Homo sapiens: one gene and its partners. The protein of the gene in region 4 purifies or fractionates together with the protein of the main gene of each other region. This does not show direct contact. Each region holds a gene or a part of one and is shown on either strand. Other genes may lie near its edges. The genes, in order: PLS3, FLII, ACTR2, SH3BGRL, WDR1, ETFA and UACA.

Evidence for each region.
Region 1: the proteins of SH3BGRL (region 4) and PLS3 purify together in Homo sapiens (affinity purification with mass spectrometry; one large-scale study listed by BioGRID and IntAct). This does not show direct contact.
Region 2: the proteins of SH3BGRL (region 4) and FLII purify together in Homo sapiens (affinity purification with mass spectrometry; one large-scale study listed by BioGRID and IntAct). This does not show direct contact.
Region 3: the proteins of SH3BGRL (region 4) and ACTR2 purify together in Homo sapiens (affinity purification with mass spectrometry; one large-scale study listed by BioGRID and IntAct). This does not show direct contact.
Region 5: the proteins of SH3BGRL (region 4) and WDR1 purify together in Homo sapiens (affinity purification with mass spectrometry; one large-scale study listed by BioGRID and IntAct). This does not show direct contact.
Region 6: the proteins of SH3BGRL (region 4) and ETFA fractionate together in Homo sapiens (co-fractionation; one large-scale study listed by BioGRID). This does not show direct contact.
Region 7: the proteins of SH3BGRL (region 4) and UACA purify together in Homo sapiens (affinity purification with mass spectrometry; one large-scale study listed by BioGRID and IntAct). This does not show direct contact.

The regions. Positions count from the first base shown.
Region 1 is NC_000023.11:115,567,674-115,571,173, reverse strand, and holds part of PLS3 (plastin-3), read right to left. Parts: intron 1-3,500. UniProt on the Homo sapiens protein: Actin-bundling protein.
Region 2 is NC_000017.11:18,248,739-18,252,238, forward strand, and holds part of FLII (protein flightless-1 homolog), read right to left. Parts: intron 3,409-3,500; coding exon 3,261-3,408; intron 3,079-3,260; coding exon 2,942-3,078; intron 2,740-2,941; coding exon 2,527-2,739; intron 2,280-2,526; coding exon 2,100-2,279; intron 671-2,099; coding exon 588-670; intron 464-587; coding exon 389-463; intron 146-388; coding exon 62-145; intron 1-61. UniProt on the Homo sapiens protein: Is a regulator of actin polymerization, required for proper myofibril organization and regulation of the length of sarcomeric thin filaments. It also plays a role in the assembly of cardiomyocyte cell adhesion complexes.
Region 3 is NC_000002.12:65,255,331-65,258,830, reverse strand, and holds part of ACTR2 (actin-related protein 2), read right to left. Parts: intron 3,287-3,500; coding exon 3,137-3,286; intron 1-3,136. UniProt on the Homo sapiens protein: ATP-binding component of the Arp2/3 complex, a multiprotein complex that mediates actin polymerization upon stimulation by nucleation-promoting factor (NPF).
Region 4 is NC_000023.11:81,205,102-81,208,601, reverse strand, and holds part of SH3BGRL (adapter SH3BGRL), read right to left. Parts: intron 1-3,500. UniProt on the Homo sapiens protein: Appears to function as an adapter protein that bridges proteins together or proteins with mRNAs. May function as a ubiquitin ligase-substrate adapter.
Region 5 is NC_000004.12:10,082,300-10,085,799, reverse strand, and holds part of WDR1 (WD repeat-containing protein 1), read left to right. Parts: intron 1-1,269; coding exon 1,270-1,357; intron 1,358-2,621; coding exon 2,622-2,778; intron 2,779-3,500.
Region 6 is NC_000015.10:76,304,970-76,308,469, forward strand, and holds part of ETFA (electron transfer flavoprotein subunit alpha, mitochondrial), read right to left. Parts: intron 1-3,500. UniProt on the Homo sapiens protein: Heterodimeric electron transfer flavoprotein that accepts electrons from several mitochondrial dehydrogenases, including acyl-CoA dehydrogenases, glutaryl-CoA and sarcosine dehydrogenase.
Region 7 is NC_000015.10:70,683,559-70,687,058, forward strand, and holds part of UACA (uveal autoantigen with coiled-coil domains and ankyrin repeats), read right to left. Parts: intron 889-3,500; coding exon 707-888; intron 1-706. UniProt on the Homo sapiens protein: Regulates APAF1 expression and plays an important role in the regulation of stress-induced apoptosis. Promotes apoptosis by regulating three pathways, apoptosome up-regulation, LGALS3/galectin-3 down-regulation and NF-kappa-B inactivation.

The DNA of each region.
Region 1 (3,500 bases), about 34 Mb from region 4:
CGCCTGTAATCCCAACACTTTGGGAGGCCGAGGTGGGTGGTCATGAGGTTAGGAGATCAAGACCATCCTGGCTAACACAGTGAAACCCCGTCTCTACTAAAAATACAAAAAATTAGCAGGGCATGGTGGTGGGCACCTGTAGTCCCTGCTACTCGGGAGGCTGAGGCAGGAGAATCGCATGAACCCGGAGGCGGAGGTTGCAGTGAGCTGAGATCGCGCCACTGCACTCCAGCCTGGACGACACAGTGAGACTCCGTTTCAAAAAAAAAAAAAAAAAAAGAATAAATTAAACGATAAACAGGTTTCTGAGCTAAGCGAAGAAGCTTCTTCAACCTGAAACATGGCTAGAATCCTTCACATTCACAATGAAAAACAATAAAAGGAGTGTTTTTCCAATACCATTAAATAAAACACAAAAAACCCCACTAATTTCTAAAATCTTGCCAGCCTGGGCAACATGGGGAAATCCCATCTCTACTAAAAAACAAACTACAAAAAAAAGTTAGCCAGGCATGGTAGTACACGCCTGTAATCCCAGCTACTCGGGAGGCTGAGGCACGGAGATCGCTTGAGCCCCGGGAAGTCAAGGTTGCAGTGAGCTGAGATCGCACAGTTGCACTCCAGCCTGGGCGACAAAGCAAGACTCTGTCCAAAAAAAAAAAAAAAAAAAGGAAGGTAGGAAGGTACTCAAATTAGAGAAAAAGAGGTAGATATAGATGCCTGACAAAAATCATCTAAGGCAACATTAATCAACCTGTAAATGAAAATACTTATTGAGCACCTACCATATGCTAGTTGCTTTATAAGTGTTCTCATATAATAATTATGAGAACAAAGTGAAAAGTGAGTGTATTATCTTCATTTTATTCATGGGGTAACTGAGGTTCAGAGAGTTAAGAAACCTCCTCAATGCCACAGAGATATAAAATGGGAGAGCTGGCCCAGGCGCGGTGGCTCATGCCTGTAATCCCAGCACTTTGGGAGGCCAACGCAGGTGGATCACGAGGTCAAGAGTTCAAGACCAGCCTGGCCAAGACGGTGAAACCCCATCTCTACTAAAAATACAAAAATTAGCCGGGCACAGTGGCAGGAGCCTATAATCCCAGCTACTCACAAGGCTGAGGCAGGAGAATCGCTTGAACCTGGGGGATGGAGGTTGCAGTGAGCCGAGATTGTGCCACTGTACTCCAGCCTGGGCGACAAGGTGAGGCTCTGTCTCTAAACAAATAAATAAATAATAAAATGCGAGAGCTATTGGAACCCATACTTTATGCTAAAATCCATTCTGACTGTGCAACATAGCATGTAAATGATGCCCCTGAAAAGAAAAGAAAGGTAGTGAGAATGTGTTGTTGGGTGAAAGGAACCTTCCAAGTCACTTCTGGGTCATAATAGAATTCCCAGACCAATAAAGTCTTTGGTGAGTGAGGCTAGTGAACTGGAGGAAAGAGAAAAACACCATGGAAGGGTCTGTGAAATGGCATGGGTTAAGTTTCAGGAGGGATATGTAATGTACAATGAGCCATTTAAATACACAAAATATTTGTAAATTCAAGTGCTTGTAATTTAAGCAATCGCCATATACTGAAACCAGGCACAAATTAAGTGACAGCATCAGAATTTTTACTATTATTGGACCTATGTTTAGTTATATTATTTAAGCAACCTGAATGAAATGTAAAACTCTGAGTTTAACTGTAGTTTATTGAGTGATATCAAAGTACTTTAAGAAACTAATAGCCTTGAGATAAAAGGGCATATCAGCAAATAGTCATTTAGCCAACACCAGGATTAAATGTTTCTTTAGGATACTGAATGTTCATAGGCACAAATAAGCTTTGTATACTTGAACTGAGTTTTATAATAATATTAAACATAAAGGCTTCTTAAAAACAAACGTGTCTCCCTTCCCCCATTAACAGTTCCGTTTCAAAAAACAGAACTTCCTATGATTGTACACAGCACAGAATCCTACCTCATCCTGCTCTGCACCTGCTAACTAGATCAGAGAAAACCAAAATACTTCCAAGACATATACTTTACCTAAACAAGTTCCAGTTTAGAGTCACATATGATACAATACACTATATAAAGAATGGCCTTTTCTTTTTTCTTCTTCTTTTTTTTTTTTTTTTTTTGAAACGGAGTCGTGCTCTGTTGCCCGGGCTGGAGTGCAGTGGTGCAATCTTGGCTCACTGCAACCTTCACCTCCTGGGTTCAAGCGATTCTCCTGCCTTAGCCTCCCAAGTAGCTGGGATTACAGGCGTGCGCCACCATGCTCAGCTAGTTTTTTTGTATTTTTAGTAGAGACGGAGTTTTGCCATGTTGGCCAGGCTGGTCTTGAACTCCTGACCTCAAGTGATCTGCCTGCCTTGGCCTTCCAAAGTATTGGGATTACAGGCCTGAGCCACCATGCCCAGCCTTCTTTTTTTAAATGCCACTGAAATCAAGGCTATCTTTTTGTTTAAGCCAATGTTTAAATTTCAGGGACTATCAAAGGAATTCATCTTTAAAACATTCTTGGTGACTTCTAAAAAATGATAGAGTGCAAAATGATGTTCGATCAAGAATGCTTACTGAAGCATTATCTGTAAGATATGGAAACAAATGTTCAACAACTTGGAATTAGTGAAATAAATTATGAAACAGCCATTATATAAAATATACTGCAGTGATTTTAAACATTTTTAAAAATATTTGATCACTTGGAAACATGTTTATAATGTAATAAATGAAAAGAATGGGATATAGTGTTATTCCAATTTTTAAAAATTTCTCTTCCTACATATAAAATAAACATAAAAATATGAGCATTTAAAATTATAGTTACCTTGAATTTTTCTAATCCAAAGCAAAGTGATTGAAAACATCTTTAAAGTACACACTACACAAGACACTTTCCCAGTAGATTAATTCATACATGTTGAATAGTATAGCAATAGGATGTGCTCTAGGGACAATTTCGTATCATTTTCACCTCTGAGCAAACTCTTTGCACCCTATAATGGTGATTCTTCCTGATCTGAAACACAAGCCCCAAAATGTTAAAATGAACAACAAGAAATGGCAAAAATGGGAACATTCAAGCAAGTTAAGAAATATAGAAAAAAAGCTTGAAAATTACATTCATCTATGAATGAAAGCGTTATTTTCAGTGTCAACAGCAGAATGTCAATCTGAGTGCAACACGATGTAATTAGAGCTTATAATGTGGAACACAATAATATGAATATTCAAAACTATTATACGGCCCTAACAAATTTTATTTTACAGAAAGTAAAAACTTATATTATATATCACGTAAAACTTTATATAATATACATATGCACACATAAGTGTATATATACTCGTGTGTGTATGAATATCACAACTCAAGGGAATCAGACTTGTATTTTCAATGAACTGGACAGAGTATGAATGGGCGACAGAGTGAGAACCTGACTCAAAAAAAAAAAAAAAAAAAAGAAGAAGAAAAGAAAAGAAAATCCAAGTTAATAGCT
Region 2 (3,500 bases), on a different chromosome or scaffold from region 4:
AGTCATCAGCGAGGCTCACACCCCTTTCCTTCACACAAAAGACCCCACGGTGTCCTTGTACCTGGCCTTGGTGGTGCTGCTCAGTGTGGCCTGGGCCCCCCGCCATACGTAGATGTCTAGCCCTCGGTCCAGCAGGAAAACAAACCTGGACAAGAAGGGGCAGGAAGGAGCTGTGATGGTGCATGGGGCAATGGTCACCCCATGCTCCTGACCCCACCAAAAAAAATCCCTCACTATGGGGTTTCTGGGTAAGCCCCAGGGACCCCCCGCCAAGCTCGTGGGCAGGAATTGCTAGAGGGCCTCCTCTTCTAAGAGGCCCACACCTGCCCCCACTGGTGGGGAGGAGGCTGAGGATGAAGCACCCCCACCTCACATTGTTGGGGCTCACCTTGGGTCCAGAGAGGTCCCCTTGAGGGGCACAGGCTCCAACTTGATGTTCTTTTTCCCATACACACGATACATCCTGGGCGCAGGGCAAGAGTGGCTCAGTGTAGGCACCAAGGGCCTAACTTAGCCCCAACACCCTCCCCTCCACCCCTTGCCAGCAGACTCCAGGTCCATACCCCCCACTGCCCACACACCCTCACCTGGTGACATAGTGTGTGTCTTCCACAGTGTAGAAGCCACTGGCTGTTCCACCCTCAATGTAGGAGATGTCGTTGTCAAACACCTGTGTGTGTGAGGGTGTGGTTCTTCATCACTGAGCTGCCCCCTCCCCCACCAACCACTGCCCCTCAGGTGGGGGTACAGAGTTGCATACAGGTGAATTGAGTGCTACAAATCTATGATGCCTGTAATCCCAGCACTTCAGGAGTCTGAGGTGGGTGGATCACCTGAGGTCAGGAGTTGGAGACCAGCCTGACCAACATGGAGAAACCCTGTCTCTACTAAAAATACATAAATTAGCCAGGCGTGGTGGTGCATGCCTGTAATCCCAGCTACTCGGGAGGCTGAGGCAGGAGAATTGTTTGAACCTGGGAGGCGGAGGTTGCAGTGAGCTGAGATTGTGCCATTGTACTCCAGCCTGGGCAACAACAGCAAAACTCTGTCTTAAAACAAACAAACAAACAAACAAACAACAACAAAAAAAACAGATCTGGCTGGGCACGGTGGCTCATGCCTGTAATCTTAGTACTTTGGGAGGCCAAGGCGGGTGGATCACCTAAGGTCAGGAGTTCGAGACCAGCCTGGCCAACATGGCAAAACCCCATCACTACTAAAAAAATACAAAAATTAGCTAGGCGTGGTAGCACATGCCTGTAATCCCAGCTACTTGGGAGGCTGAGGCAGGAGAATCGCTTGAACCCTGGGGGCGGAGGTTGCAGTGAGCCAAGATTGTGCCACTGCACTCCAGCCTGGGCAACAAAGCGAGAGTCTGTCTAAAATAAAACATACACATCTGTGTCTATAAACATACACACGTCGGGGTGTTGGGATGTATGAAAAATATGGACACGTTCACCCACGTTTGTAAAGATGCCAGCAGCATGTTTAGATGCACGCATATCAGGGTACACAAGCAAGTGGGTTCATGGAAGAGTGGAAACCTGGGTGAATGTGGGTAAAAAAAACTCGGGGCGGGTGGGGTGTGTGCATAAACTCCACGTGTGTGTACATGCGAACATATGTCTAGGTGTAACCAGCTGGCGGCTAACACTGCTCAGTAATTTATTCAAGACTGGACTCTGGTCCCGCCCTTGGCCCCACCTCCTTGGCATCCAGGTGTGTCCTTGCCTCCTAATAACAGGTTTTGGCCCTGCCTTCTCACTGCTCTTGGCAACACCCCTTCCACCCTACTCTCAGCTCCCCTGTGTCAGCCCACTGGTCTAGCTCCCATGCCCAGCCTGTACCCTTATCCTTGCCCGGCTGAATTCTGCCCCGCGTTCCAGAACTCTCCTTTGCTGACCCAGGCTTTGGCCACCTTAGACCTCACCCTGCGGTCTGCCTTAGGTCCCGCACAGTATCGTTGATCCACCCCCTTTAACCCCAGCTCCCTGCCTGCCCACCTGTTCTGCCTACCTGCCTTGGGCCCACTGCCCCTGCACCAGAGTTCCCTGGGAACCCCACTCTGCCCACCCCCAATTTTAACGGGCTGGCACCTGCAGGAACTCCTCGCTCTCATCGCCCATCTCCTCCCGGACAGTGCGGCACTCAGCACCCAGGTAGTTGCGCAAGTTGACAGCGTGGATGGCAGAGCAAGCTTTCTTGTCGAGTGTGGCCTCCCCGCCAATCCAGTAGTAGATCTCCCAGTTGAGGGAGCCGCTGTCATCCAGAAAGGTCTGGAAGCCAAGGCACCGGCCACATCAGCTTTCATCCTGGTCTTCCGGCCACCCCGGAGACGCCACTCTGAACAGCACAGGCTTCCCAGCCCCAGGGGCTTTGTACTGCCCCTGTGCCTGGACCACCTCCTGCAGCCTGCCCACCTCCCACCTGGCCTCCCTGAACAAAACTCTGGAGTTGGGGACTGAGCCATCTTAGAGGAAGGTACTGGGCCACATGGCCCCTAACAGCATGCCCAGCCCTCACCTTGAGCACAATGTAGCAGTCAGCCTCGTAGAACTTGCCGTGGAAGGCTTCCTCCACCAGCACAGGCACGAAGTTCTCTATCTGCCAGATGGTCAGTCCGGGCAGCTGGCCCACGTCCTCCGTGAAGAACTCGGAGTAGTCAAGGCGGGGCTTCTCCAGGCCCTGGTCCCAACGCCGCACCTTCCCGCTGGGGGCCCGGGCATCTGCGCTCTCCTGGGGGCAGAGTCACAGAGCACGGCTTGACTCTGTGAAGCCACTCAGGCCAGTCTTTACTTGCTACCCACACCTCAGGGCCTTTGCACAGCTGTTCTTTCTGCCCAGCACCCCCCGTCCCTCTTGGCCAGGGTCAAGGCCAGGGTCGGCCTTCAGCAGAAGCTAAGGCTCCCTGCCTTGTCCCAACCCTGGCCTGGCTCACCTCCTGCTTTTTGTTCTTCTCCTGGGCAACATCTGACATGCCCTTCAGCACCTGCTTGGCCTGGTCATCCTGGGCTGAATCCTTGCGCCTCCGCAGTCGCATCTTGCGAGCCATAGGGTCCTTGGGCCCACTCCCTGCTTAGGGGAGGGGCAAACAGCTGAGCCCTCACTGGGCCTGCTGCCCCCTTGGGCATGCGACCAACCAGGGGCCAACTCCACCCACCAGGGTCCAGAAAGCTGTATGCCACCCAATTTACAGATGTGTCATTTGAGGCCTGGAGAGGAGCCCCCGTTCCCAGGCCAGACCTTTCCCCACTCACCAGCTGCAGCTGCAGCCACGGTAGCAGGAGAGGCACCCGCTAGCCGCAGCTGGTTCTGCAGCGAGAAGTCGATGTTGTACCACTCAGCGGCACGGTCTGCGGGCTTGGGCGGCATGACCAGGTTGGGGTTCTCCCGCACATCCAGGACCTGCCCCATAGGGTGAGCAGAGCCGGCACTGAGCCTGGGTCCTACCTCCCAGACACACCAATCCAGTTTCTTGCTCTTGTCTGCAGCCGCCA
Region 3 (3,500 bases), on a different chromosome or scaffold from region 4:
TGATAGTGTGGCTTCTCTCCATTCTCTGGCTGCTGGCCAGCATGGGGTCAAGTTTTCTAATCACCTTAATGAACTGTTAAAACTGCAGGCATCCCATTTCTTTGCACCAAATCTTATCCTGTTCTGTATTTGTCCACCCATGTCCCTCCTCACTTATTCATCAGCTTATTACTTTATACTTGTGTATATGTGTGTGTGTGCATATATATATCAAATATATATATGGATTTTGTTTTGTTTTTGAGACAGGGTCTCGCTCCTTCACCCAGGCTGGAGTGCAGTGGTGCAATCCTAGCTCTCTGCCTCAAAACTTGAGCCTTGAACTCCTGGGCTCAAGCAATCTTCCCACCTCAACCTCTCAACTAGCTAGGACTACAGGCACGTGCCACTACGCCTGGCAAATTTTTGTATTTTTTTTGTAGAGACAGGGTCTCATTATATTGCCCAGGCTGGCCATGAACTCCTGGCCTCAAGTGATCCTCGTATCTCAGCCTCCCAAAGTGCTGGGATTACCGGTGTGAGCCACTACACCCAGCCTATTTGTATATATTTTTGTAGCCTACCTCAAATTCTTTGAGAAAAGAGAGAAGGAAGAAATAAAACATGTTTTACATTCCTAGTTTGCTTATCTTTTGCCCTGTGCCAGCCACTTTCTTCCAAAATAGTCAGGTAGATGGAAAATCAGACAACTAGAGAAACTGTCAAGAAGACTTCAGGAAGGAATCTCCAGAGCAAATCTGGAGATGATTAAGTTACAAAATGGGTTTACTCCTAGAAGAAAACCTAGCCAATACCATTCAGGACATAGGCATGGGCAAAGACTTCATGACTAAAACACCAAAAGCAATTGCAACAAAAGCCAAAATTGACAAATGGGTTCTAATTAAACTAAAGAGCTTCTTGCATAGCAAAAGAAACTATCATCAGAGTGAACAGGCAACCTACAGAATGGGAAAAAATTTTTGCAATCTATCCATCTGACAAAGCCTTAATAACCAGAATCTACAAGGAACTTAAACAAATTTACCAGAAAAAGACAAATAACCCCATGAAAAAGTGGGCAAAGGATACGAACAGACACTTTTCAAAAGAAGACATTTATGTGGCCAATAAACATAAGAAAAAAAGCTCATCATCGCTGGTCATTAGAGAAATACAAATCAAAACCACAAAATCTCATGCCAGTTAGAATGGCGATCCTTAAAAAGTCAGGAAACAACAGATGCTGGAGAGGATATGGAGAAATAGGAACGCTTTTACACTGTTGGTGGGAGTGTAAATTAGTTCAACCATTGTGGAAGACAATGTGGTGATTCCTCAAGGATCTAGAACTAGAAATACCATTTGACCCAGCGATCCCATTACTGGGTATATACCCAAAGGATTATAAATCATGCTACTATAAAGACACATGCACACATATGTTTACTGCAGCACTATTCACAATAGCAAAGACTTGGAACCAACCCAAATGCCCATCAACGTTAGACTGGATAAAGAAAATGTGGCACATATACACCATGGAATACTATGCAGCCATAAAAAAATGAATGAGTTCATGTCCTTTACAGGGGCATGGGTGAAGCTGGAAACCATCATTCTCAGCAAATTAACACAGGAACAGAAAACCAAACACCAAATGTTCTCATTCATAAGTGGGAGCTGACAATGAGAACATATGGGCACAGGGAGGGGAACAACACACATGGGGCCTGTTGGGTGGGGGGCGGCAAGGGGAGGGAGGTATAGCATTAGGAGAAATATCTAATGCAGATGACAGGTTGATGGGTGCAGCAAACCACCATGGCACATGTGTACCTATGTAACAAACCTGCATTTTCTGCACATGTATCCCAGAACTTAAAGTATAATAAAAAATAAATTTAAAAAAATTTTAAATGGGGGTTTACTGAATATTTGGATCACTATCTTAACTTTTTTTTTTTTTTTTTTTTTACCGACATGGAGTCTTGCTCTGTCACCCAGGCTGGAGTGCAGTGGCACGATCTCAGCTCACTGCAACCTCTGCCTCCTGGGTTGAAGCAATTCTCCTGCCTCAGCCTCCTGAATAGCTGGGACTACAGGTGCCCACCACCTTGCCCAGCTAATTTTTTGTATTTTCAGTAAAGACGGGTTTCACCATGTTGGCCAGGCTGTTCTCCAACTCCTGACTTCAGGTGATCCGCCTGCCTCGGCCTCCCAAAGTGCTGGGATTACAGGCGTGAGCCACCGCGCCCGGCCAACAACAAATTTTTTATAATTACTTTAAAAATGACTATTTTGCATATATTTGTGAATATGTAGAGCTAGTATGCATCATATGGTTTTAAAATACTTGCCTTCATTGCCTATTACTGTTTCATTTTAGTAATAACTAGATCAAAGATGAGACCTGGAAGTACTTTATACTCAGACAAATTTAATAGGCTTAAGATGGTAATTCATTAAAAATTCAAGTAGGATCAACTCCTCTGGTGTTATAAACTATAACCAGGTACTAAATCTCATTAGTTACAATTTCAAGTTAACATTTAACACCTCATTAAAGAATATTAAGTCAGGAAAGGCTGCCACCTACTGAATTAGTAAAGCAATGCTCTAGAATGACCATTTCCAAAGTATGTTTCTTAGATCACTAATCCCATGAAATTCTGAAAAGTCCTAGAGCATAAGTCTGAAAAACACGCATACTATATTAATTGTGCCCATATTAGCATACCAAAGGCTCTGAGTTCTACAGTGAAGTGAAATCAACTCTTTCTCAAACTCATCTGACAATGTAATCCTTTTTAATTTTTGTGAAATGCTTATTAGCATCTCAGGGAAATAAAGTTCTGTAAAACATACATTGAGAAATGCTATGCCAAATACTAGAATCTCAAAATAACATCTCGCATCTAATTATATCCTAGTATAGAGAGTAATTTATGATTCTTGCCTTAATTTGCATTATATGGTGCCCTAAAATAATTAAATAGAAACTTAATGTAGAAAGAGACATTAAAAGTCACACATATACATATTACAACAACCCAAGACAAAAATACTGATTCTAAGAAAACCTCCTTAAGCTGACACCAATAATCATGGCTGTCCACTTTAAAACACATATATATTATACACTGGAAACACTTACTGTATAAGATTCAACTAATACTGTGGTTTCTAAGGCCAGTTTCTGCTCTTGCTCAATATTATATCCCACGTAACACAGTTTTTCTTTAATCATGCGAACCGTTTCAAAATCAGCAGAGTGGTTGAAGGCGTATCCTCGCAACAGAAGTAGCTGGTACAAAACAATAGCAATAAGTTCATAATACATCTGAATGAGTTCTACTCTGCAAAAGCTAGTAATGCTCATTAAATATGTCACATCAATAACAAACAGAATGGGCAGTGGATCCTCAGCTCCTACTATTTCAGAAGCAGGATTTTATCCGCCATAAAAGGATTTATATTTCAGTTTCAGAGAGGGTAAAAGAATTAACAATTCATAAGTA
Region 4 (3,500 bases):
GGTCAGATAGTTAACCAGCAGCTTCTCTCTTAATCTGTTTACTTGTATCAGTAAGAAATGAAATACAAAATTCAACCTTGATAATTCCATTAAAGCAGGAAATGTTTTTGTAAATGATACTTGGTTAATTGCACAATATATATTTCATAAAAGATTTTAAAGATTAGCTACAGAGAACATTCAATCTGATTGACATTTGAGGTTTATTTATTTTTTCCCTAGGCTAACCCTGGTGGAGGGTTTATTGATCAAAACCCTTCCTCAACAAAGTAACTAGTCTTTGTGCTAGAAATAAGTCCATTTTATCTTTCTCTTCTACCAAATAATGATTTTTTTTTTTGAGACGGTGTCTCGCTCTGTCACCCAGATTGGAGTGCAGTGGCACGATCTCGGCTCACTGCAACCTCTGCCTTCCGGGTTCAGGCCATTCTCCTGCCTCAGCCTCCCAAGTAGCTGGGACTACAGGTGCCCGCCACCACGCCCGGCTATTTTTTTGTTTTTGTATTTTTAGTAGAGACGGGGTCTCACCGTGTTAGCCAGGCTGGTCTTGAACTCCTGACCTCGTGATCCGCCTAGCTCGGCCTCCCAAAGTGCTGGGATTACAGATGTGAGCCACCGTGCCCGGCCCAGATAATTAATCTTTTACTAAACTTTCACAATATATTCTTCCCTACAACCATGTAACATTTAAGCATCTTTTTAAATGCCCAAGAATCACCATCACTGATCACTGATCAGCCTCTTTTTGGGCCAAATTCTTCCAATGTTTCTGTGAAATTTAGGAAATCAGCCATCAAATACTAAGCATCAATTTGAAAGCACTGATCTTGAGTCTCCACATTTGCCATGTGAAAGCTGCCATTTTCCACTGTTAGGGACCTCCAAAAAGTATGTCCCAGTCATTTGGTGAACAGTTTCTAATTTTAGTCTTCTAAGTGAACATCTTCTATGAACACCTTTAAACAACATTCAAACAAACTTTGGAAGATATGACAAAAATCCTTGCATACACAAAATCAATGTTTAATGTATAAATACAGACAGAGCAGCAAAACATTCTGCGCCTAAAGTACAATTATTTGAGAACCACATAATGAAGAACTGTGTCTTGCTCTTCTATATTATCCAGATGAAGAAAATACTGTGACTAGTGACTAATTACACAATCCAGAACATTGTTTTATCTGTTGTTATAAATTGTGCAGAGTACAACCATAGAGAAAAATTATGTATATTTGTGAACAATCCAAGCTACAACTAGCTTCTGTTTTATCAGTTATATAAAATACATCAATTTTTAAAAGTTACTTCACAATTAAAACCCTAAGAAATCATCTATTTCCCACAATCTTAAAATTTCTACACCAAGGCACAAATAGAATGCATAGATGCCATGAAATGGAGATCATTATGGGTCTTGGGGAAATATGTATAGGGAAAAAACTCCCAAACCAGTTAAAATTCTCCAAGCTATCATCTCTCTAGCAATTCTCATCCTAGGCCAATGTTGATTTTTGTTAAGAAGTTATTGCAATTTATTAACTTATATAGGCTCTGAGATTACTATTCATTTTCCATTAAATGTAAATTTACAAGGCATTACAATCTCAAGAAACAAAACGTGGCATATACCTGTGTCACAGTGAGTTAAGACATGTATAAACAATTCTGAACAGGCAGAAATCACTTCATATAGACAGACTACTTGGAAGCTGCATTCTTGTTAAATGGTTCCCATCAAACTAAACAGTATTAAGGCCTGAATTTTATACCTTGACCTATACCAGACCAGTTTAGGCTTTCCAACTGTGTAGGTCTTCTCTATCTTCTTGGCCTTGGGTGAACAGTCACTTACCCTACTTACAGACATTCCCTTTTAGACACAATATCCCTCCTACACACTAGCTGCCCATTTCTCTATTCCCCTATATGCACATGCCCAGGCAACTCTTCTTCCACTTACAGGACTTACTTCCTCCCCTACCTCTTACTCGTGTTCAAATTTATTTCCTCATGCCTACTAGTTGCCATAAATCACTGGGAGGATGCATTTCTTGGTGGTTAAGTACATATTCTTTGGATTCAAACATCTTGCTTGGATTCAAGCTCTATGGCTTACCAACTGTGTAACCTTGAGAAAGTTATTTACTCTTTGAACCTGTATACTGTATTTCCTTCTCTGAAAAACAGAGATAATCATAGTGCTTAATTCAAAGGATTATTTTTAAAAATGAGATAGTATCTGACATACTTAGGGGCTTCTACTGACTATCATTATTATGGTTACCATCAAGAAGTCCATTACATTGGTCTGGGCAAAGATTTTTTGGGTAAAACCTCAAAAACAGGCAATGAAAGTAAAAATAGACAAATGGAACTATATTAAGCTAAAAAGCTTCTGCACAGCAAAGGAAACAATCAATAGAGTAAGGAGAAACCTAAAAATGGGAGGAAATATTTTCCAACTATCCATCTGACAAGAGATTAATATGTGGAATATATAAGGAAGTCAGTAGCAAAAAAGAAACCCACAAAAAAACAAATAATCCAATTTTTTTAAATGGCAAATGATTTCAATAAACATTTCACAAAAGAAGACATACAAATCGCAAACAGGTATAAGAAAAAATGTTCCGCATCACTAACCATCAGGAAAATGCAAATCAAAACTATAATGAGATAACATCTCACTCCAATTAAAATGGCTATTACCAAAAAGATAACAAATGCTGGTAAGGGCACTGAGAAAGCGGAATACTAGTACACTTTTGCTGGGAATGTAAATTAGTACAGCTGCTATGGAAAACAGCACAGAGATTTCTCAAAAAAACAAAAATAGAACTACCACATGATCTAGAGCTGCCATGGAAAACAGCATAGAGGTTCCTCAAAAAACAAAAATAGAACTATCACATGATTTAGCAATCTCACTTTTGGGTATATATCCAAAAGAAAGGATATCAGTATATCAAAGAAATATCTGCACTCCCATGTTTATTAAAGAACTATTCAAAATAACTATGATATGTGGCTAAGTGTCCATCAACGGTGAATGAATAAAGGAAATGTGATATATATATATATATATATATATATACACACACACACACACACATATATATACACACACTTATATATACACACATATATATACACACACAAAATAAAATATTATTCAGCCATAAAAATGATATTCTGTTATTTGTGACAACATGGATGAGCCTGGAGGACATTATTTTAAGTGAACTAAGACATAACACAGAAAGACAAAAGACATACCACACGTTCTCACCCATGTGGGAGCTAAAAAAGTCGATCCCATGAAGATATTGGGTAGAATGGATGGTGGTTACCAGAGGCTGAGAAGGGTAGGGGGAAAGAAGGATTAAGAGAGGTTGGTTAATGAGTACACAAATACAGTTAGATAGAAGGAATAAGATCCACTGTTCAATTGCACAATAGGGTGGCTATAGTTACCAATATAATTTACTGTATAGCTA
Region 5 (3,500 bases), on a different chromosome or scaffold from region 4:
GGTATCAGCCCAGGCTGCGTGTTAGAACCACCTGGGAGCTCTAAAAAGCGCTGGCTGCTGACGCCCCCAGAGGCACTAAGTTTACAGGGAAGTCTCAGGGCAGCAGGAGCTTGCAGGCCTCCAGAAGGAACACCCGTGGGCATCTGGGCATGGCTAGGAGTGTTTCTGGTAAGTTCAAGGCATTGAGCCTGCACACAAGTCTCTTGGCCTCTTGCCGAGTGCACGTTCTGATTTGGCAGGAAGGTGGGCCTGAGCCCTGCTGGTGGGGGCTGTGCTGGTCTGAGGTCCGCGCTGTAAGGGACTGGTGGGATGCCACATTGGAAGGAGGCCGCCCAGCTCAGTGTCTCTTACTGGGGCATGTGATGATTTTTCCCCACGTCTCTGTGGAAAAGATGAAAGTAGCTGCATTCGTTGCCCATTCTCCAGTCCCACTGGTAACTGTGTACCTGTCTCCAAGGAGACCTGCATCCAAAGATCTATGCCATATTGTGGCAACATGTGGCATACCACAGAGATCAAGAATTCCTGCGGAAAAGCCCTGAGCTCAGAGGAGAGGGGCCAGCCAGGAGCTGGCCTCCCTTTGCAGGAGAAAGGCATGAGGAGCCTGCACCCTAGCTGTTATTTTTGTCTCAGGCTCAGATATGGAGGGGGCTAAACGCCGCCCTCTGGAAGCAGCTGTCTGGTTGTGGACCAGCCTTGTGTGCCCTCCACTGCAGCAGTCAGGGAGGTTAGGGTAGGAGCGTCAGCGTTCACGGACAGCCTTGGGCTTTTACAGTGATCAGAGAGACCCCTGCCCTCAGCAGGGCCAGCACTCCTGGGCAGGGAGAGAGAAGAAACCTCACAAACCAGGGCCTGAAGCGAATGTGGCCAGCGAAGTCCTCCTGGACCGACCCCCTTGTGGCTCCCCGCGACGGGTGCTGGTCGGCGGGGTGCAGGCCACGTGTCTGCACACGTTAGGTGCTCAGGTGCTGACGTGCTGGGCCTTGGTTAGACGCAGGTCTGGGCCCAGGTCTGGGTTAGGTACCTTGGAGGGAGGGGAATGAAGGGCAGGGTCTGTAGGTGACTGGGTAGCTTTGGAAAGGTTTCTTAGGGCTCGTGGGCCGTGCATTCGGGCAGCTGGGGCTACTGGGGCCTCAGAGCACCTGCACTGCCATGGATTGAGGGGCGTCTGCCCCCTCCATTACCCAGAAGCTTCGTTGGTGGAAAGCGGGTGGCAGAGGGCAGGGCAGTGTGTCATCAGCTTACCCGCCCAGTGTGTCTCCTTCACAGGGTCACAGTAAATCGATCCAGTGTCTGACGGTGCATAAAAACGGCGGCAAGTCCTACATTTACTCTGGGAGCCACGACGGACACATTAATATCCTTTGACTCAAAGAGCTGGCTCCGGAGCCGCTGGCTCTAGGGGGGAATTTCCTGTTCCCATGATGCCAGAGGCCAGGCCAGCCAGGTGGCTCCAGCTGCAGCCACAGCCACACGCTCTTCTGACCCGTGTGGCTTCTAGGGGTGGCCTGTCTGTACATGGGGACAGGCAACTGTCCCCTGGAGTTGTCCTTGGCAACTCCAGGGCTTATGCTGAGGAAAAGCCATGGGCGGCTCCGACCTGATCAGTCCCTTCTTGTCGTGCAACCCTGAGAGTGTGGCTTAACGGCCCTGAGCTTGGGCTGCCACTACCTCTGCCAATGGCACCTGGCGCCAGCCTTGGCCCTACTCCACATGGTGGGTTTCTTGATTCCTAGAATTCACAAGCACCTGGACACCCTTACGTTGGGTCCCCTTGTTTTAAAAATAGGAAAACCAGAGCCCAGAGAGCTGATGTGCCCGCCCCAGAGTCATGCAGCCTGTGGTCCACAGAGCCAGGGCTGGAGCTCCTGCGAGGTGCCTTGTGGCCCTTCGGTGATGTTCCCTGGAGGTGTTTGTGTCCCCCTTATAAGTCCTTGTCTGGGTTTCTTTAAATGAGTCCTGGTTTCTCCCTGATGATGGGGGCTTCTGTTGTGTTTTTCCTGCATGGCCTGGGGCTGGTGACACCCTGCTCACGGGTGTGTCTTGAACCTTGGAGCCACCATCTGCAGAGTGCCTGGGCAGGGATGCCCACACACGTTGCTGATGATGGCACCTGCTGTGCGTTGTTCTGCTGCCCTCCCTGAGCACCGTGCTGTGTTGGAGACTGCCTTTTGTGTGGACAGCTCTGGTCCGCATGTGCTGTACCTCCCAAAGGGACTGTCCGGGACCCAAGGAGGTCCCCCCAGGCTGGGAGAGGAGGGCAGACATGCCACCCTCTGCCCCCAAAACATAAAGAAATGTGGGGTTAGAGGGTTGCGCCTACCCGATAACTAGTAGCAGAGGAGACGCCGGAGCCTCCCCAGCTTGCTGGTCCCCAGTAGGCCTTCAGCACGGCTCCCTTTCTGCCTCATCCCAATCCCTGTGTGGTGCACCCACACTTCAGATACCCCTTCCTAAGAACGTGTCAACAGTGGACACTGCAGGCTTCCCAGGGGGAATGGTTATGTCCGTTTGCGGCGAGATTCTCATTCTTGATGTAAATGGAGAATCTTAGGACTGAAGCCACACCTGAGAACACCCAGCAGTCCTGGGAGCCGGGCTTTTCCTTAACCCCACCCTACATTACTGGGATTCAGAGACGGGGGAGAACGACTCCTTCGCTGGGAAAGGCCACACGAACCAGGTGTCCAGGATGACCGTGGATGAGTCGGGGCAGCTCATCAGCTGCAGCATGGACGACACCGTGCGGTACACCAGCCTCATGCTGCGGGACTACAGGTGAGAGCACTCGGGTCTGCGGGGGTTCCGGATGAGCCTCAGCTCCCCTCGGAGGGCTTGTGCCCTCCAGCAGTTACTGTTCTGGAGGACGCCTCACTTGCTCCTTTCATCTCTCCCACCCCGTCCCCAGCATTGTTCTCCTGTTGTTGGGCCCTGAGCCCAGCACTGTGTTACAGATCCAGGTGGTCTGGGTAATGCTCTTGCCCACAGACAACGACCAGGTGTGGACTCTGCCCTGGAAGCAGGGGCAGCAGATCACAGCCCTGTTCTCCAGGAACCTGCTGCGGTCTCTCCCTGTGTCCCTTTCCTCATCAGTAAAGGCGGGTACAGTGGAGCCTGCCTCAGGCTGTTGTGGATTAGGTGAGCCTGGCACAGGGCAGGTGCTGAGTACAAGACAGCATTCCCCTTCTGCTCAAGGGTGAGATGGGCACACAGTGATCTGGTTAAAAGACAATGTCTTGTTTGTTTTTGGTCTTGGGCCTTTGATTGGCAGTCAGTGGAGCTAGGAGAGTAGCAGTTTGCAAGTGATCTGAAGTCCTAAATGCAGTTGGAGGGACTTGAAAGAGAAATGTTCCAGGACCTGACGAGGCCACTGCACATCCAGTGTCCCCATGCCCAGGTCTGACCCCTCCTCTGGCCCTACATTTCTTGTGTAGACCCCTTTGTCACCCGGTAGTCCTGCCTAAGTCGTGTTGCCTGGGAGATGGGGACTCCTGGGGCCT
Region 6 (3,500 bases), on a different chromosome or scaffold from region 4:
GCAGCAGAGGCTGCAGTGAGTCGAGATGGCGCCACTGCACTCCAGCCTGGGCAACAGTGAGACTCTGTCTCAAAAAAAAAAAAGAAAGAAAGAAAGAAAGAAAATCCTCCGCTCTATTACTTTATCACTCAGTAACAATAGTTTAAGGCACCTCAGTGTGCAAACATAATTTCACAGATATCCTTTCAGTGTTTTCCAGTCCTCTAACAAGATTAAACCTCTCCCAAACACCCTCTATGTTCTGTAACAATGACCACACTTAAAATAATGTGTTTCTTCCTTAATCTGTTTGCATCACAAGGGCAGGGACTAGGTCTGTCTTGTTCTCCACTGTGAACTTGGTATCTACCTCTCTGGCACACAGTTGGCACTCAATGAATAGTAACTAAATGAAAACTTTTCTTAAAATTATCAAAAACTAAAAAGCAACTGTTTCCTCATTGATAATGTAATCAACTAAACATGTATAAGGGTAACTAAACAGTACATAAACTGTTACATCACTAAAACAGACACACCATCATGCTTTTAGAGAAGTTCTCTATACTCTGTTTAGACTTGGTTGCAAATAGCAAAATATGAAGTTTTCTTTCTCATGCCAGCCACATACCCATATAAAGTTGACTGGCCTTTATAAGATAGTATACTTCTTGTGGGCAGGATTTAAAGAGGTTATCACCCTCTCTGCACCCTTTCAAAGCTAAATTTCTTGAAAATAATTTCCACAGACACCAACTCTTATTACCTCACCTTCCATTTTTTCAGTTACTCATGCAAACTGGCTTTCACCTTCACAACACTGAATCCAATCTTTCCAAAGTCACCAAAAACTTCATTATGGCTAAGTCCAATGAACACATTTTGGTCCTTCTCTTTTTCAACCTCAATAGTTGTTTTTTTTTTTTTCTTGTGGGGGTGGGTATTTGTTTGAGACTGGGTCTTGCTTGCTATGTTGCTCAGGCTGGTCTCCTGGACTCAAGTGATCCTCCTGCCTCAGCCACATGAGTAGCTGTGACTACAGGCACATGACACTGTGCCCAGCATCAGCCTCATTTTTGACATTGTTTTTGCTTGTCAGTTTTTTAGAGTTCTTGCTGTGACTTGAACTGTATATTCACATAGTAAAGTACCACAGATGGTAGAAGAAGAAAAAAAGCTGGAATCTAACTCTCTACCCTTACAAACCCACTCATAACCTAAAGTAGTAAGAATGATTGTAACCTATACCTCCACCCCAACCATCTTTGGAAACTAGGTGTAATGAGGGTATAGAGGGCAGGGGAGGGTTTTTTTGCTTCTTTTTTTTTTTTTTTTTGAGACAGAGTCTCGCTCAGTCGCCCAGACTGCAGTGCAGTGGCGCGATCTCAGCTCACTCCAACCTCCGCCTCCTGGGTTCAAGCAATTCTCCTGCCTCAGCCTCCTAAGTAGCTGGGATTACAGGCACGCACCACCACACCCAGCTAATTTTTGTATTTTTAGTAGAGACGGGTTTCACCATGTTGGTCAGGCTAATCTCAAACTCCTGACCTCGTGATCCACCCACCTCAGCCTCCCAAAGTGCTGGGATTACAGACATGAGCCACTGCACCCAGCCGGTTTTTTTGCTTCTTAATTAAAAAAAGAAAAACAGCAAGAATAAGCTATAAAATCTTTCTGAGTCATACCCAAAAGGATAATATATAAAGTCACCTATCCCTATTTTAACATACATTTTGTAATTTTTAAAATGTATATTTCTGTACTTTAAATACTTCCTTTAATCCTTTTAGTAATAAAATATAGCAGCTTTTAATCATGACCAGAAATGTTATATGACATTGACTGTAATACTAAAAACACAGTCAATTTACTTCACTTTAAGAAAGGACAAGACTCTTAGTAGACACATTGGCAGGCATCATAATTTTACTGAATTCACCTTATGCAATAAATTTTCTTTTAGAATCACACCAAAATTGGCTCTCTTTCTTCTTTCAATAGAAATTAAAATTTGCATGCAAATTACAGAGTTCAATCTTATTCATCAATACTAGACAGAAAAGTGTCATGTTCCTTCACACCAGTTTCATAGCTTCTCAGTCCTGATAGATATTCCTTCCCACCTGACAATAAACACAGTAAAAAGAGTACTCAAATGACCTTGAAATTGTTGTTTCACTCACCACATAAATATTTTTCTGCATCTTCTTATTCTTCAATAAATCAATTTCAAGAGCAAATTAATAAATAACAATAATTAGGATTAATATCCCTGCAAGAATATTAACTAACTGCAAATGCCTACCTATTTGCCTCTTGGTGTGTTCTCTAGCTCTTTATTATAGATATAAAAACTATCTTTGTTAACAGATGACTTTAAAGACCATTGCCACACACATAAGGATGAAAGACTTTACTCAATGGCACAAATCAGTCAGAACTAAAAATGGAACTTAGATACCAAATGCAAGTCATTGAACTTATATCCTAATAGTTTAACAAAGTGGTTTAAAAGAATACATAAAATTTACCATCTTAACCTTTTTTTTTTTTTTTGAAACAGCGTCTCACTCTGTTGCCCAGGCCGGAGGGCAGTGGTGCTACCTGGGCTCAATGCAGCCTCAAATGCCCAGGTTCAAGCAAGTCTCGTGCCTCAGCCTCCCAAGTAGCTGGGACTACAGGTGTGAACCATGGCGCCTGGCTAATTTTTTTTTTGGTAGAGATGGGGTTTCGCCATGTTGCGCAGGCTGGTCTCGAACTCCTGAGCTCAGGTGATCCATCTGCCTCAGCCTCCCAAAGTGCTGGGATTACAGGTGTCAGCCACCATGGTTGGCCCCATCTTAACCATTTTTAAGTGTTAAGTGTTAACTATATGCACATCGTTAACAGTTTATGGTAATCTTTTAACTGTAATTCCTAACTTTATTTTTTTAAATATGGTTTTGGAAATGTATCCTCTTCCTAAATGCATTAATGGTTAGCTACAGAACATTTTTTTTTTAATTTCAAGAGTGGGGACTTGAGATAAGCTATTTTGACTTTGTGATATCACAAACATATATATGTAAACAAACAGGAGTCAGATTGAATGGGCCCCACTTTACAAACATGAGACAACTTCAGCATAAGGTAGAAATGTATTATCCTAAATAAGGATCCATGTATCCATAAATCCATAAATATGCAAGAAGATAATGTTCTTCCTTATAGTAGAATAACTAAAAAATGTACGAAGGTATCATGGAAATAGAAAATCACCATTTTGCATCATAGTAATCATTTCTCAGGCAAAAATCATCAACAGATGCTAAGACTGGGTAAAAGTCTGATGAGAAATAGGACAGTCACATAGTCTCAATGAATCGCCTCACAAATTAGTTAAAAATTACAAAAGGAGGAGTATTAACTTGACAGTGGAGAAACCTGGCAAACAACACTTTGGCTAAGTAACTAAAGTCAGCATTACCACTAATGGGATAAACCAACATTAAGTACCTGCTAATATGATGCACGGGGAACAC
Region 7 (3,500 bases), on a different chromosome or scaffold from region 4:
TTATAAATAGCTTAAACACTACATGTAGAAAACTGCTTTATTAAATGAAACTTAAATAAATGGAATCTCATACACCAACAAAAATCATACTATAGAAAAACTATTTTTGAGGGAAAGGCCTTCAAAATAGGTTACATAAAAAAGTAAGCTACAATTCAGATTTACAGTGAATTCAATTTAATGGGAAAAGACTAGAAGGATATTTCTCAAAATGTTAACAGAGGCTTCTCAGTGGTAATGAGTGACTATTCATTGTGCTTTTCTGTATGTTCCTGTTTTTTTTAAAAAAAACATAAAAAATCATGGCATAGGCATTTGGTAAATATCAGCTGACTATTTTACATACATGTTTAAACAATGATTCTTTAAAACTTCGTAAGTATAAAAAGTTGGGAGGTTCACCCCTCTTCATCAAAAAAAAAAAAAAACTTAGTAAAACACTTGACTCTTCCTTCTCAGTTCTGAAGTTATTCCAGTGTCTTAGTGTTCACTGGATAAACTAGATTATATATGCAACACACACTGCCTCAAAGCAAGTGACCATAATGTAAGTAAGCAAATCCATGTTGTAGAGGGAGATGAACCAATACTGTTTATCAGTAAGGAATGTTTTGCTTCTTATAAACTGTAGTTCTACTACCTAAGTCTTTTAAAAAGTGGCTCTTTGTTAATGTGGACTTTTCTAGTTACAGAAAACTGCTGATACCTTTGTTGGTATTTTCCGATGCAGTCTTCAACAAGGTTAGAATGTCCAGATTGTCACCAATTCTTGCATAGTAAGAACTATCATGGCCAAGCGCATCCAGCAAGCTTATATCAGCACCATTTTTAATTAAGACTTCTACTGCATCTCTGCAACCATATTCGCAACCTAGCATGAGGGCAGTTCTAAATGGAAAAATGGAAGAGCAAAAGACTGAGAAAACTCCAAGGAAATATTGCAGAAATATTCTGCCCTATTGTTGAACACTGTCTTAGTGTTCACTGGATAAACTAGATTATATATGCAACACACACTGCCTCAAAGCAAGTGACTATAATGTAAGTAAGCAAATCCATGTTGTAGAGGGAGATGAACCAATACTGTTTATCAGTAAGGAATGTTTTGCTTCTTATAAACTGTAGTTCTACTTGAACACTAAGTTCAAGTAAGTGTTCAACACTACTTGAACACTTACTTGAACACTAAGACATGCTCCCTTCTTGAAGAATAGACACTACTTTAAGAAGTCATGCCTGTTACAGATATAGATTTTACTTTATATTCATTGCATTTATAAAAACATTTGCTTTGTCTTCTATATCCTTATATCCTTTAATTACTTCTACTACCAAACCAACCTCATTTATTCCACTTCTTCAATGTCCTACACGTAAATAATCACCACAAAAATTTTCCACAACTGATACTGTCACCCCATGTGATCAAAACCCAACTTTTTCAGTCCCTTCATGAACTGAACCACATCATGCAAACCTCCCCTAAGAATCCCTTCTCCTCCAAGAGAAGTATCAGATTCCATTCCTGATGTTCCTGCTTAGAAGAACCTTGATTCTTCTACCTGAAGACCTTCACATCTTCAGACTACAACTAACGCCATGCAACATGGATCATTGCTTTATTCTATTGCAATAGAACCACTGGCACTCAAACATCTCACAGTACATCAGCAAATACTAATCATGCAACAAAATAATTGTCATGAAAATCTAGAAGGACCCTAGAAATTATTTTGTCTAATCCTCTATTTTTTAGGATGGGGCTAACCAACACGTAATGAAATGAAATGACATATCCTATATCTAACTCTGTCTTCAATTGTGAATATTGGATCTCTTAAGGAAACTGACTCTTGCCTTTTCTCTGCTATGTATGCTGTGTTTCTCATATTCAAGCCTTGTCCCCCAACTCCCCTGTAGTTGCTGATAAGAAATTCTGTACAAAACAGGCATTAACAAAGTTTTTGTTATTTAAAAAATGCTACATATAAAACAGGAAAAAAAGAAATGAATATAGAGTATTAGAAACTAAGGTTATAAATTATGTTGAAAACCATATGCTATTTAGTCTATACAATATACACTGCCCTGCTTCATTGGCTTTTTGTGAATGCCCAATGAAAAAACATAGATAAAGTGCTTTGAAAAATGTGAGAGCTATAAAAAATATAAAGCACTGTATGTAGATCAACCAGATTATCCCTCTGTGATCCTAAAATTAAATTTAACTTTTTTTTTTTTGAGACAAGAGTCTCGCTCTGTTGCCAGCGCAGTGGCATGATCTCAGCTCACTGCAACCTCCGCCTCCTGGGTTCAAGGAATTCTCCTGCCTCAGCCTCCTGAGTAGCTGGGATTACAGGCACGCACCACCACACCTAGCTAATTTTTGTATTTTTGGTAGAGATGTGGTTTCGCCATGTTGGCCAGGCTGGTCTTGAACTCCTGACCTCAAGTGATCCGCGCCCAGCCGTAAAATTTAATTTTAAAATCCAATTTTCTTCATCATGCTTGGAATCAGATGATAGTATCCACAAAAACAAAGTAATATTAAAAAGCCACTTCTTAATCACATCTTTTTTTTTTTTTTTTAATATTTAAAGAGGTTTATTCTGAGCCAAATGTTAGCAACCATGGCCCATGACACAGCCTCAGGAGGTCCTGAGAATGGGTGCCGGAGGTGGTTGAGTTACAACTTGGTTTTATACATTTTAGGGAGACAAAAGTTACAGGCAAAGGTATAAATCAATACATATAAGGTATACATTGGTTTAGCTCAGAATGTCAGGACATTTCAAAGTAGGGGCTTCCAAGTCAAAGATTTCCTGATTGGGAATTGATTGAAAGCATTAAGCTTTGTCTGGAGAATTGAAGTCAATATAAAGAAATGCTTGAGTTAAGATAAGGGGAGTTGTAGAAGCCAGGGTTCTTTTTTTTTTTTTTTTTTTTTTTATACTTTAAGTTTTAGGGTACATGTGCACAATGTGCAGGTTAGTTACATATGTATACATGCATCATGCTGGTGTGCTGCACCCATTAACTCGTCATTTAGCATTAGGTACAGAATTTCCTCCTTTGAGATGCATAAAGAAAACAATTACAGCTATAAAATCTGACAACTAAAGACTATTTTTTATACTTTTATACTTCTAATAAACTACAAACAATAGAATACATGTTTGGAAGAATAAAATTAAGTCAAAAGAAACCAAAATTTTTACTAGTAACTACAAAAATCCCAGAAATTTTAGTTTAATTTATTGTAATACTTGAATTAAATGGAAGGGGTGTGTTTCAGATACTTTGTGACCATAAACTTCAGAATTGTAATACAACAAGCACCATGATACATTAGACCTACAGACAGAGATAGGGAGAATTCTGGATAGAAATTATTAGAGCACACCAACTAAAATAGTATCAAATACAGAAGCAAAAATAAAGCAAGGGACCTCTGCAGTACAGAAATGGACAGGTTCAGAGTAGGAGATGGCACTGTACCC